3 linked regions of the Homo sapiens genome follow. The protein of the gene in region 2 purifies or fractionates together with the protein of the main gene of each other region. This does not show direct contact. Each region holds a gene or a part of one and is shown on either strand. Other genes may lie near its edges.

What was found. Proteins that work in one complex are often made in the same cells at the same time.
Region 1: the proteins of ZNF483 (region 2) and TRIM24 purify together in Homo sapiens (affinity purification with mass spectrometry; 2 studies listed by BioGRID and IntAct, with this or other methods). This does not show direct contact.
Region 3: the proteins of ZNF483 (region 2) and LYAR purify together in Homo sapiens (affinity purification with mass spectrometry; one large-scale study listed by BioGRID and IntAct). This does not show direct contact.

Annotation. Positions count from the first base shown.
Region 1 is NC_000007.14:138,571,759-138,575,258, forward strand, and holds part of TRIM24 (transcription intermediary factor 1-alpha), read left to right. Parts: intron 1-1,748; coding exon 1,749-1,884; intron 1,885-3,500. UniProt on the Homo sapiens protein: Transcriptional coactivator that interacts with numerous nuclear receptors and coactivators and modulates the transcription of target genes.
Region 2 is NC_000009.12:111,552,548-111,555,917, forward strand, and holds the end of ZNF483 (zinc finger protein 483), read left to right. Parts: 3' UTR 1-2,870; downstream 2,871-3,370. UniProt on the Homo sapiens protein: May be involved in transcriptional regulation.
Region 3 is NC_000004.12:4,280,155-4,283,654, reverse strand, and holds part of LYAR (cell growth-regulating nucleolar protein), read left to right. Parts: coding exon 1-34; intron 35-1,757; coding exon 1,758-1,872; intron 1,873-3,500. UniProt on the Homo sapiens protein: Plays a role in the maintenance of the appropriate processing of 47S/45S pre-rRNA to 32S/30S pre-rRNAs and their subsequent processing to produce 18S and 28S rRNAs. Also acts at the level of transcription regulation.

The DNA.
Region 1 (3,500 bases), on a different chromosome or scaffold from region 2:
GGGAGACGCCCTATGTTACCCAGGCTGGTCTTGAACTCCTGGGCTGAAGGGATCCTCCTGCCTTGGCCTCCTAAAGTGCTGGGATTACAGGCATGAGCCACTACACCCAGCCAGTATGACTATTCCAAAGGCAGAAAGTCTGCATTCTGTAGACAGATCTCCATATATAAGTTGATTCTGTGTTTGATCCTTTTTTTAATCTAAAGTTAGATAACCTACTGTCGTGCACATATACATACGCACCTAATGTTAAGAAGCTTTTAGGAAATATCTTGTACTCTTTACTTGGATCAAATTACCTATAAGATTGTGAAAATAACTTTTTTATTTTCATTATTTGTTTTTCAAGTTGAGATCAATTAATATTTCCTAATAGTTGCATTGTTAATCTTACCAGAGTCATTCCATTTTTAAAATAGTTTTGTATACTTTAAATGAGTAGAATACATATATTTTCTCATGCATGGATGGTTCATAGGAAAACTTACATCTAATCCCCATAGTTTTATTTGGCTTTTAGGATTATCCCACAAAGTAAACAACTTTCCTTGTATTAAGTTCTCATGAATTTAGTCATTCTAGTACTTTTTGTACTCTTTGAAAAATATTGGCCAAGTATTGCCAAAAGAATATTAAAACAAAAATGACCCTGTATATTAACCACCTGGCCCGATTTCCCTGCCCCCGAACCCACAGAAAGTAAAATTCTTTCTGCTTTTTCCTCTGCAGTCCTCATACAGGTGAACCTTTTTCCACCAGGCTTTCTTACCTGAAATTCCTCTTAGGAATTACAGAATAAGCTGAAATGAGTGACTGTTTTCTCATTCCTCCCAAAGGTGCTTCATAACTAGTACCATTCTAGGTGCATAAGCAAGAAATTGATTCATTATATACAAACTGTGCCCTATGGCTGTAGGACTTAATTATCTTATAGAATCCTGGTTGAACAAGAGTAGAACTATGTTAAAGAATTGAACTGGATTTTAAGCCCAAAGACATTGGTGGGAAATTTGGTATATGTAGGCATGAAAGAATTTTTGTGTCTAAAGTATTAAACTCTTACTCATTAGGGATTTGTAAATATTTTTGCCTGGCAATGAATAAGGAAAAGAAGTGTTATTTGTATTCCTGTTATATTAAAGCAAGAATCTTTAGGGTTCACCTTTTCTCCTACAAAACAACAGTAATGTATTCAGTGAGGTTAGTGCTGTAGATATATGGACTTCGTCTATTTAGCACATACCCAGAGTATCAGTTGTTAAAGTATCCCTTTCAGAGGATCCACTAGGTCCTATCTATCTGTGTGAGGCTAGATTTTCTTCATATTTTTCAAGCAAAACCATATACCACAATAGATTGAATGCTGTTTAGGGAGACATTAAAGAGATTCGCAAGAAATGTAAAATTGTGATAGTCTTCTCACCAAGTTTATGTTTTTCATATGGCAAGCTTTTGTCGTTTATAAGAATTTTTTCAATTTTTAAGAGTGTGAATGACATGATATTCCTTTTGACTCCTGTTTTTGAAATAGCGTCCTCAATATTTTACTAAGGTGAAACACTAAGATAGTGAAAACCTTTATTCAAGGTTGTTTATGGGGAAAATATCTGTTAGAACTTCTCAAATGTGGTATCTATGTTTTGTTATTCGATAATAATTATTAAGTTATTGAAGCTTTCTTATAAATTTAAAAGTAGCTTTTAACTTGCAAAATCAGAATGCCCTGAAATAATTTCTTTTCTTGTAAGATTGACTGTTCAAGTACTATTATGCTGGACAATATTGTGAGGAAAGATACTAATATAGATCATGGCCAGCCAAGACCACCCTCAAACAGAACGGTCCAGTCACCAAATTCATCAGTGCCATCTCCAGGCCTTGCAGGTAAAGTGGGCTTCTTTTGATTTTTGTGAAAGTTTTTCTAGTTTTCACTTTACTTGGAATAAAAAATTACCCCTCTTCTCCTTTTTTGTTGAATGCTTAATCTGAGTTTTTCACTATTTAAAATTAGTATGCTTTCAGAGAAAACAAAGGTTAAATTTCTTTATCCTTTCTTTCTTTTGAGTCACAGTCTCGCTCTGTTGCCAGGCTAGAGTGCAGTGGTGCGATCATAGCTCACTGCAGACTCACTCCTGAGCTCAAGCGATCTCCCACCTCAGCCTCCTGAGTAGCTGGGACTGTAAGTATGCTGCTCTACCAAACGTGGCTAATATTTTTTGGTAGAGACAGTCTTGAACTTCTGGCCTTAAGCAATCCTTTCTGCCTTAGCCTCCCAAAGCTTTGGGATTACAGGCATGAGCCATCATACTAGGCCTTCTTTACCTTTTCAATTTCAACAGAACTTCTCACCATTATAGTACTTCCAGGGGGAAATTGGTGTTATATTCTTTCTTGTTGATAAGTTGCCTGTGATGTGGTCTTTAAGATGTAATTTGCCTAGGGTCAAAATGTATTAGTGACAATAAGTAGCAATCACTCTTCTGGTGATTTGTTTGGTGTTTAATTGTGTTTGTGAATCTTGACATACCTACTCATTTCCTCTGAGAGAAAAACGCTAATATTACTTCTGAGGACGTAGGTACCTTAAACCAAAATATGAAAAGAGAATTTAAGTCACTCAACAGTCACATGAACACAATTTAAATGGGGATGCCCGTTTTAAACAAACTTATGACAAAATATAGCAGAGAAACTGTTTATCATATGACAAGTTTATACAAATAAGGAACACATGTGGTATTGCCAAAGGACATGATAAGTAGATAATTCCCTAAAGAGGAAATACATTTATCCAATATAGCAGATGAGACAAAAATTCATTCTTACTAGTGGTCATAAGAAAAATCAAACAAGATAGAATTTCTAAGTTACTGAATTAGCTAAGACTTAAATAATAAAAATAGTCATTGAGAATGTGATGAGAGGTACTCTCATACATAGGTGGAAGGGGTATGAGTTGGCAAAACATTCCTGGAAACCATCATAGCAATATTACTAAAGTTTACATTTATCCAATATTGTACTGTGGGCAAAGTACCTTATATGTATTACCTAGTAGGATATTTGCTTCAAGGGGCTTGGAAAATGTATGTACCCTTGAACCTAGTAATTTCCATTTTAATATGCCAATTATAAGGAAATAATTAGGAACTGGATAGGCAGATCGTATTTATTAATATTTATATTACTATTAAGGCATTATTTGCAGTAGTTAAAATTTTGAAGCAGTGCCCAAATATGAGGATAAAAATAAATTAGAATGTGCTCACTTGTAAACAGATTATTTACCTATTCAGACAATGCTTATGTAGAGTTTTTAATGGCATGCTCATGGACTACTGTTTAGTGAAAACAAGTATACAGAACCATATAAAAGATGTAAAAGTATGTTTAAAACTGGAAAGAGATATATCAATCAACCTTAGCAGTGTTTATATATGGATGGAGAAGTTATGGGCTACTTAAATGTTATATATTTTTATAGTTTTCAACTATTCTAA
Region 2 (3,370 bases):
GTCTCTAACTGAAATTCTTTGACAGATGGAAGATTGTCAAAAATATCTGCCATGAGTTTGAGCCTTTAGGCAATGAATTCACATTTCATTGCCTTTACATGAATCGACATTGTAAATTTGGAGGTTCTTTGAGACAGAATATACCCAGAGTTTTCTTTGGGCAGTGTCTTGTATCAAACAGTTCATCTAAGGCTAAAGAAAAATACTTGAAATTTTTCAAGATTTGAATTAATTGGTCTTTATTATTAAAATATAAATATTCTATTAGCAAAAATATATTCTGTTCATGTATATCCAAGAGCAAAATTGTTTAATGGTTTCATTGACGTTTTCAGTTTTCATGAATGTCTTTTAAGGTCTTTTCCTCATAATTTTCTAAATACGATAAAGTGATAATTTCTTCATCTCTCCATCTAAGGTTCTTTGTAGATGCATGTGTAAGAAGCTATTTTATAGCTTGCCAGGTTTACAAACTCAGACCCTTTTAAAAGTTGTTTAAATTGTTTTGTTAGAAATTTCACTCGCAGTTCATATGAGTAATTTTGTGTATTCTTTTTTGACTTACACTCACTAAATGGTTGCTAAAAATTACATGTCTTAAATATTGTCTTAAGTATTATCTACTATGTATCTTTAACACTTTTGAATAGAACAAACAGCTTTTCCATTTTGCTCTGCTGCAGTAAATTGCAATTGCCATTCATCATTAAATGTGCACTATACTGTCTCTAGTCTTCTTGACTATGCCAGTTGTAGTACCAGCTTCTGTATCTGCACTGAATTCTGCCTCAGTAATATGCCTTTGTTTAAAATTTAAATATTTTTTCATTTTTTTAACCTAGAAAATAATTATAATGAAAATATTAAGTATCTCATTTTAGGATTCTGATTTACATAGGTATCACTGTAACTTGTGCTGTTTGCATAGGTATACTCTATCTTGTGCTATCTGCATAAAATATCCAAGTAAACACATTGTGATTTTACATCCGTGCATAGAAAAAAAAATCATCTGAACTCAAATCAATCTGTTGATACTGACTAGATTGGTGACGTGTTTATGTGTAACACTAGTGATAATGCACGTTCCTGTACAAGCATTATAATACAACAGTGTCCTATGCAATGCAGTGGTTAAAGTGAATTGTAGTTCTATCAAAATAAAGATACGTTTAGTGGAAAAGTATTTGACTCTGCTTCTGTTTTTAAAATTGTGAAATGTGGCACTGTGTGGATTTCCATTTCTCACTAGCCTCAAGTGACTACCATATTAAGTTGCTCTACGCAATCCTAGCCACAGAGAACCCAACAAATTGGAGTAGCTTAACTGAATGAAAGTTTATTCCCCAGGGGTCTTTCCAGCATTTTGTTGCTTTCCCATATTTTGTAGTCATGCTGTGTGGAGCACATAACTTCCAACGTCCCAGAGGCAGGGAAAGGAAGAACTGGAGCATTGTGCAGTGTTTTTAAGCACTAGCCTAGAAACAGCTGAGAACCACAGGTTTCAAACTCGGTGCCAAGGTTTCCCATTCCACTCTAGAGATCTCACACAGGCTTCCCAGGATATTTTAAAATCTGGAGATTATCACAACTACAACTATTGACATCACAAACTACTACTATTATGTTATTGGAACTAACTACTTAGCAAATGGAATTGATAGTTAATGGGTTTTTTGTTTGTTTGCCTGGGAGCATTGTGGAAAAATGGCCATGGTACTACAGATCCTGTAACTAAGAAAGTCAACCTCTGTCTTAGAAGTCACTTCTACTCTTCCGTTGCCCAGAGATCAATCATATAACCCTAACCTAACTTAAAGGGAGGCTTGAAATACAGCTTTCCCCTCATTGTGGTGAGCACATAGATTATTTCTACCACAGTCTGTTCTTTCGGTCACCAAACTCTTTCTTCCCACACTTAATGCATACAGTAGCCCCCTTATCCATGGGGGATATGCTCCAAGACCTCGAGTGGATGCCTGCAACCTCAGATAGTACCAAACCCTGTATGTTCTATGTTTTGTCAGTCTGATAACCCAAGAAGGCTACTAAGTGACTAACAGACAGGTAGTGTAGATGACATGGATATGCTGGACAAAGGGATAATTTGTGTCCTAGGAGGCACGGAGCAGGATGGCAAGAGGTTTCATCAGGCTACTCAGAACATACTGGAATTTTTTATTTCTGGAATTTTCTATTTAAAATTTTGGGGCCAAGATTGAGGGTAACTGAAACCACGGAAAGTGAAACTTTGAATAAGGGGAGACCACTGTATTTTACCCAAGGGAGACAATCCAAAGTCTAATCTGCTCAGGGTCTACAACTGAAGTCCAGGGTCTTTGAGTTAGATGCTTTGAGTGTGACCTACTTTTTGCCTTTGGGACCCTAAATGTCAGTGCCTGTTAATTTTTCTTTGAGAAGTGTAATTTCTCCAGAGGTCTGCTCTTTAATTTCCCCAGAGAAGGATGTTCTAGTCAGCATGGGGGATATAAGCCTGGCTACCATTACTGGCGAGCAGGCAGAGGCACGCCACATGGTGGGATAGGAGTTGGAGTTCATCCCCTTTTATTCAGACTTCCACTTAGTATCCTGTTTTTAGTCTTCTATCTTATTTCCATCCTCCTCCAGGCCCAGGGTACCCAAGTTAATAGCCTATCAAGTTCTATTTGGCAAAAGATAATGCCTCTCATTTCCTGTGGGAATTGTGGTGAATTGATAATCACCTGGCAAAATAAGGTAGGAGTGGCATTTTGAGCTCAAACTGTTCTGTGCACATTTTCAAACTCTTTAGCCTCTGATTTTCTCCCTACTTCCAGAAAACCTGATGCCTCCACCTCCTAAATCTTTCCATATTTCATTAGTACCCCATCAGAAGGCCGTTGTGCTATTTTCTACTGTGCTCTGTTAATAAAATTTTTCCTCTAAACAATATGTGTATTAGTCTGTTCTCACACTGCTATAAGGAACTACCTGAGACTGGGTAATTTATGAAGAAAAGAGGCTTAACTGACTCACAGTTCCGCAGGCTATACAGGAAGCATGGCTGGGAGGCCTCAGGAACTTACAGTCATGGCAGAAGGGCAAAGGGGAAGCAAGCACATCTTCACATGGCAGCAGGGGAGAGCAAAAAGGGGGAAGTGCTACACACTTCTAAACAACCAGATCTCATGAGAACTCACTATCATGAGAACAACAGGAGGGAAATCTGCCACCATGATCCCATCACCTCCCACCAGGTCCCTCCTGCAGCATTGTGGATTATAGTTCAACAGATTTGGGTGGGGACACAGAGCCAAACTATATCATTCCACCCTGGTCCCTCGCAAATCTCATGTCCTTTCTCACATTTCAAAGCTAATCATGCCTTCCC
Region 3 (3,500 bases), on a different chromosome or scaffold from region 2:
GCCTTTCTTGCATTGACTGCGGTAAAGATTTCTGGTAAGCTTCACAGAATTCATGTAGATCCATAGTAAATCCAGATCAGTTTTGGAAGCCTTGGCGCCACAAAGCTTGGAAAAATAGTGGCAAATTTGAAGAATGAAATTAAGACTAAAAACTGGTATGTTCCATTGATTAAAACTGGTGTGATTCTTTCAAATGTGCTTTACTAGGCCGGGCGCAGTGGCTCAGGCCTGTAATCCCAGCACTTTGGGAGGCCAAGGTGGGTGGCTCATGAGGTCAGGAGTTGAAGACCAGCCTGGCCAACATAGTGAAACCCTGTCTCTACTAAAAATACAAAAATTAGTCAGGCGTGGTGGTGGGCGCCTGTAATCCCAGCTACTCGGGAGGCTGAGGCAGGAGAATCGCTTGAACCCAGGAGGCAGAGGTTGCGGTGAGCCGAGATTTCACCACTGCACTCCAGCCTGGGCAACAGAGCAAGTTAACCCCTTCTTGGGGGGGAGAAATGTGCTTTACGAAACAATTTGCTTTTTGAGGATATGTTAAAGAAAAGACTAGGGGAAGGGGAATTATGATGATTAGAGTGTTCAGTCAGTTGGTGACACTGGTTGCTATTGCATTGCCACTGTTTACAGACCCAGGGAACTAACTGCGTGGAAGATGGCTCCAGGGGTTTAGAGCCAGTTTCATTAGACCATGGGTATCACATGCCCATCACAGTGGAGAGATGGACTTATGAACCAGAAAGTGAATTTATGAGCTCACAGTGGGGCAGATGACTGGTAGCAGAGGAAACTATGTCCTCCCTAGAAAATCAGAGGTGCTGGTGGAAGTGAGGCTCTTCCTGGCCCCACGGGTGTGTCAGGAGACACTTCCACTGAGGAGGCCTCTGTGAATGTGAGGAGTTAGCGGGGAGGGACAGGACAGATCCTGCCTTAGACACCGGTTCTTCAGGTGGGTCGTTTGCAGAGGGCTCCCCTCTTGAATTTCATGTTGATTCCCCTTCAGCCTCAGAAGGTCCAGGCGAGAAGCTGGCTTCTGGCTGCATCTGCCCCAGTGTCCTCTGAGGCATTCGGATGGTACTGGCTAATACTCTCTTTTAATTCATTCTGGAGCAGTGATTTTTTTTGGAAACTGCTAACCTCTGTTCAGACGTAATCCTAGGAGGAAGCTTGATATATAAAGTAGGTTAAAATTGAGTTTTCATTAGGGGACTTTGCCCTGGACCTTGTCCCCAACATTTCCCTGAAGAACCCCATAGAGCTTTACAAAGATTATATGAGAGAGAATTTAGTTTTCTTTTTTCTCAGGACCCTAAGGGATCCAGAACTGTTGGTAACCTCATGCTGCCATTTTATATCTGTTTTTGATTTATTCTACAACTAATTATTGACTGTCTATTAGACATTGAGATTTTTATAATTTAAAAAAACTACCCTATTGCATAGAACTATTTTCTTGTTTATTCAGTATATGTACACTTATGACTTAAAAAAATACTGCCTATCAATTTAGCTTAAGGTGTTTATAAAAATGGGGGAAAAGTTTGGTGATGGGTTTTATATTGACGACTTTGGAGGAAGGGGGATGTGGTTCTGACCAGGAGGCTGTAAACATAATAAGTGAAATAGATGGGGTGCTTGTGTGATAGACACATGTGAAAATATACAGTGTAGACCACAGAAGATAGTGGCAGCATGCTGGTATTAGCGCCTCCAACTTGGGTATCAGTCTAATGGCAGAACTTTTGATCACTTTAAAGGGGCGATGACTATAAAAACCACGTGAAATGCATAAGTGAAGATCAGAAGTATGGTGGCAAAGGCTATGAAGGTAAAACCCACAAAGGCGACATCAAACAGCAGGCGTGGATTCAGGTAACGTCTCTCTAACTCATTGAGTAGCTTCCTCTGACAGCTTCCGCTTTCTTTGGAAGCCCAAGAGACTAAGAGTAAATGTGTCATCCCTGCAGACAAGCTCTGGAAACCTCATGTCCTAGGATAGACAGGTTGAACTAAAACCTCTTGAAAAAGAATTCTTTGGCTGGGCATGGTGGCTCACGCCTGTAATCCCAGCACTTTGGGAGGCCAAGGCAGGCGAGTCACGAGGTCAGGAGTTCAAGACCTGCCTAGACAACGTGGTGAAACCCCATCTCTACTAAAAATACAAAAAATTAGCCGGGCATAGTGGCGGGTGCCTGTAATCCCAGCTACTCAGGAGGCTGAGGCAGGAGAATCGCTTGAAGCCAGGAGGCAGAGGTTGCAGTGAGCCGAGGTTGTACTGGGTGACAGAGTGAGACTCCGTCTCAAAAAAAAAGAAAAAGAAAAGAAAGAAAAAAAGTTCTTTATTCTTCTAGCTGTTAAAACAGTTGCGGTGCATTATACCTTTAATCCATGTGTTTTGTTAATTTCTTGAAAAAAAAGTTTTAGAATTCTCATTAGCTTTCCCTTGGCTGTAAAACTAAATGGAAGCTTCTAATCTCTCCCTGCTTCTAGTGATAATGGAGCTTTTATAACTCAAGCCATGTTAATCTGTCACATCTGCCAGTCATTAGAATTAGGCAAAATAAAGATACTTTCGTCAATGCAGAGAATTTTCTACTTAACTAAAACAGCATGAAAACATGCACAGTAGAAATGGCAGAAACATTGACTCCCTAATTCACTGGGAAGTATAACTCTCAGAATGCTACTGATCATTTACAGAATAGGTAGCAGGAGGAAGGATTCAGAAAGGAAGGTGGGATAATGAAAAGACGGATGTCATCTATTGAAAATTCTGTGTTTTTCTAAAAACCAATAAAAAGTAATCGTTCCATTTGATAATAGAGTTGGAACGTGAATTTTTCAGACATTAACTAGCTTACTGAATGAGCATACTACTGGGAGGGTATTTCTGTTCACAAAGGACTTACTAGAGCAGATTGAGAAGCTAATGAAATCCTGTTTGCACTGGTGACCAGCAGCCACACTTTTGAGCACTCTCTGTAATTCTCTAAAAACCAGATGACGTTCCTAGACCCTAAGGTTGAGGTGCATGGGTCTGTGAGTTCCGTCTCTGCTGCTGTCACACTCGATGAAATCCTCTGAAGCAGGGGTCAGCAAACTACAGAAACTTATTACAGCTTTGTAATAAGTTTTGAAATCAGAAAATATGAGATCTGCATTTTTGTTGTTCTTTTCAAGATTGTTTTGGCTATTTGGTATCTTTTGAGATTCCCTGTGAGTTTTAGGATGGATTTTTCTGTTTCTGTAAAAACGTATATATACACACACATTGGATTTTGATAGGAATTGTATTGAATCTGTAGATTGCTTGGGTAGTATTAACATCTTAACAACTTTAAGTCTCCCAGTCCATGAGTACGGAATGTTTTTCATTTATTTGTGTCTACTTTAATTTCTTTCAGCAGTGTTTTTTGGTTTTCAGTAAACAAGTCTTTTGCCTCTTCAGTTAAGTTTATTCCTGATTATTCTTTTTGATGCTGTTGCAAATGGAATTGTTT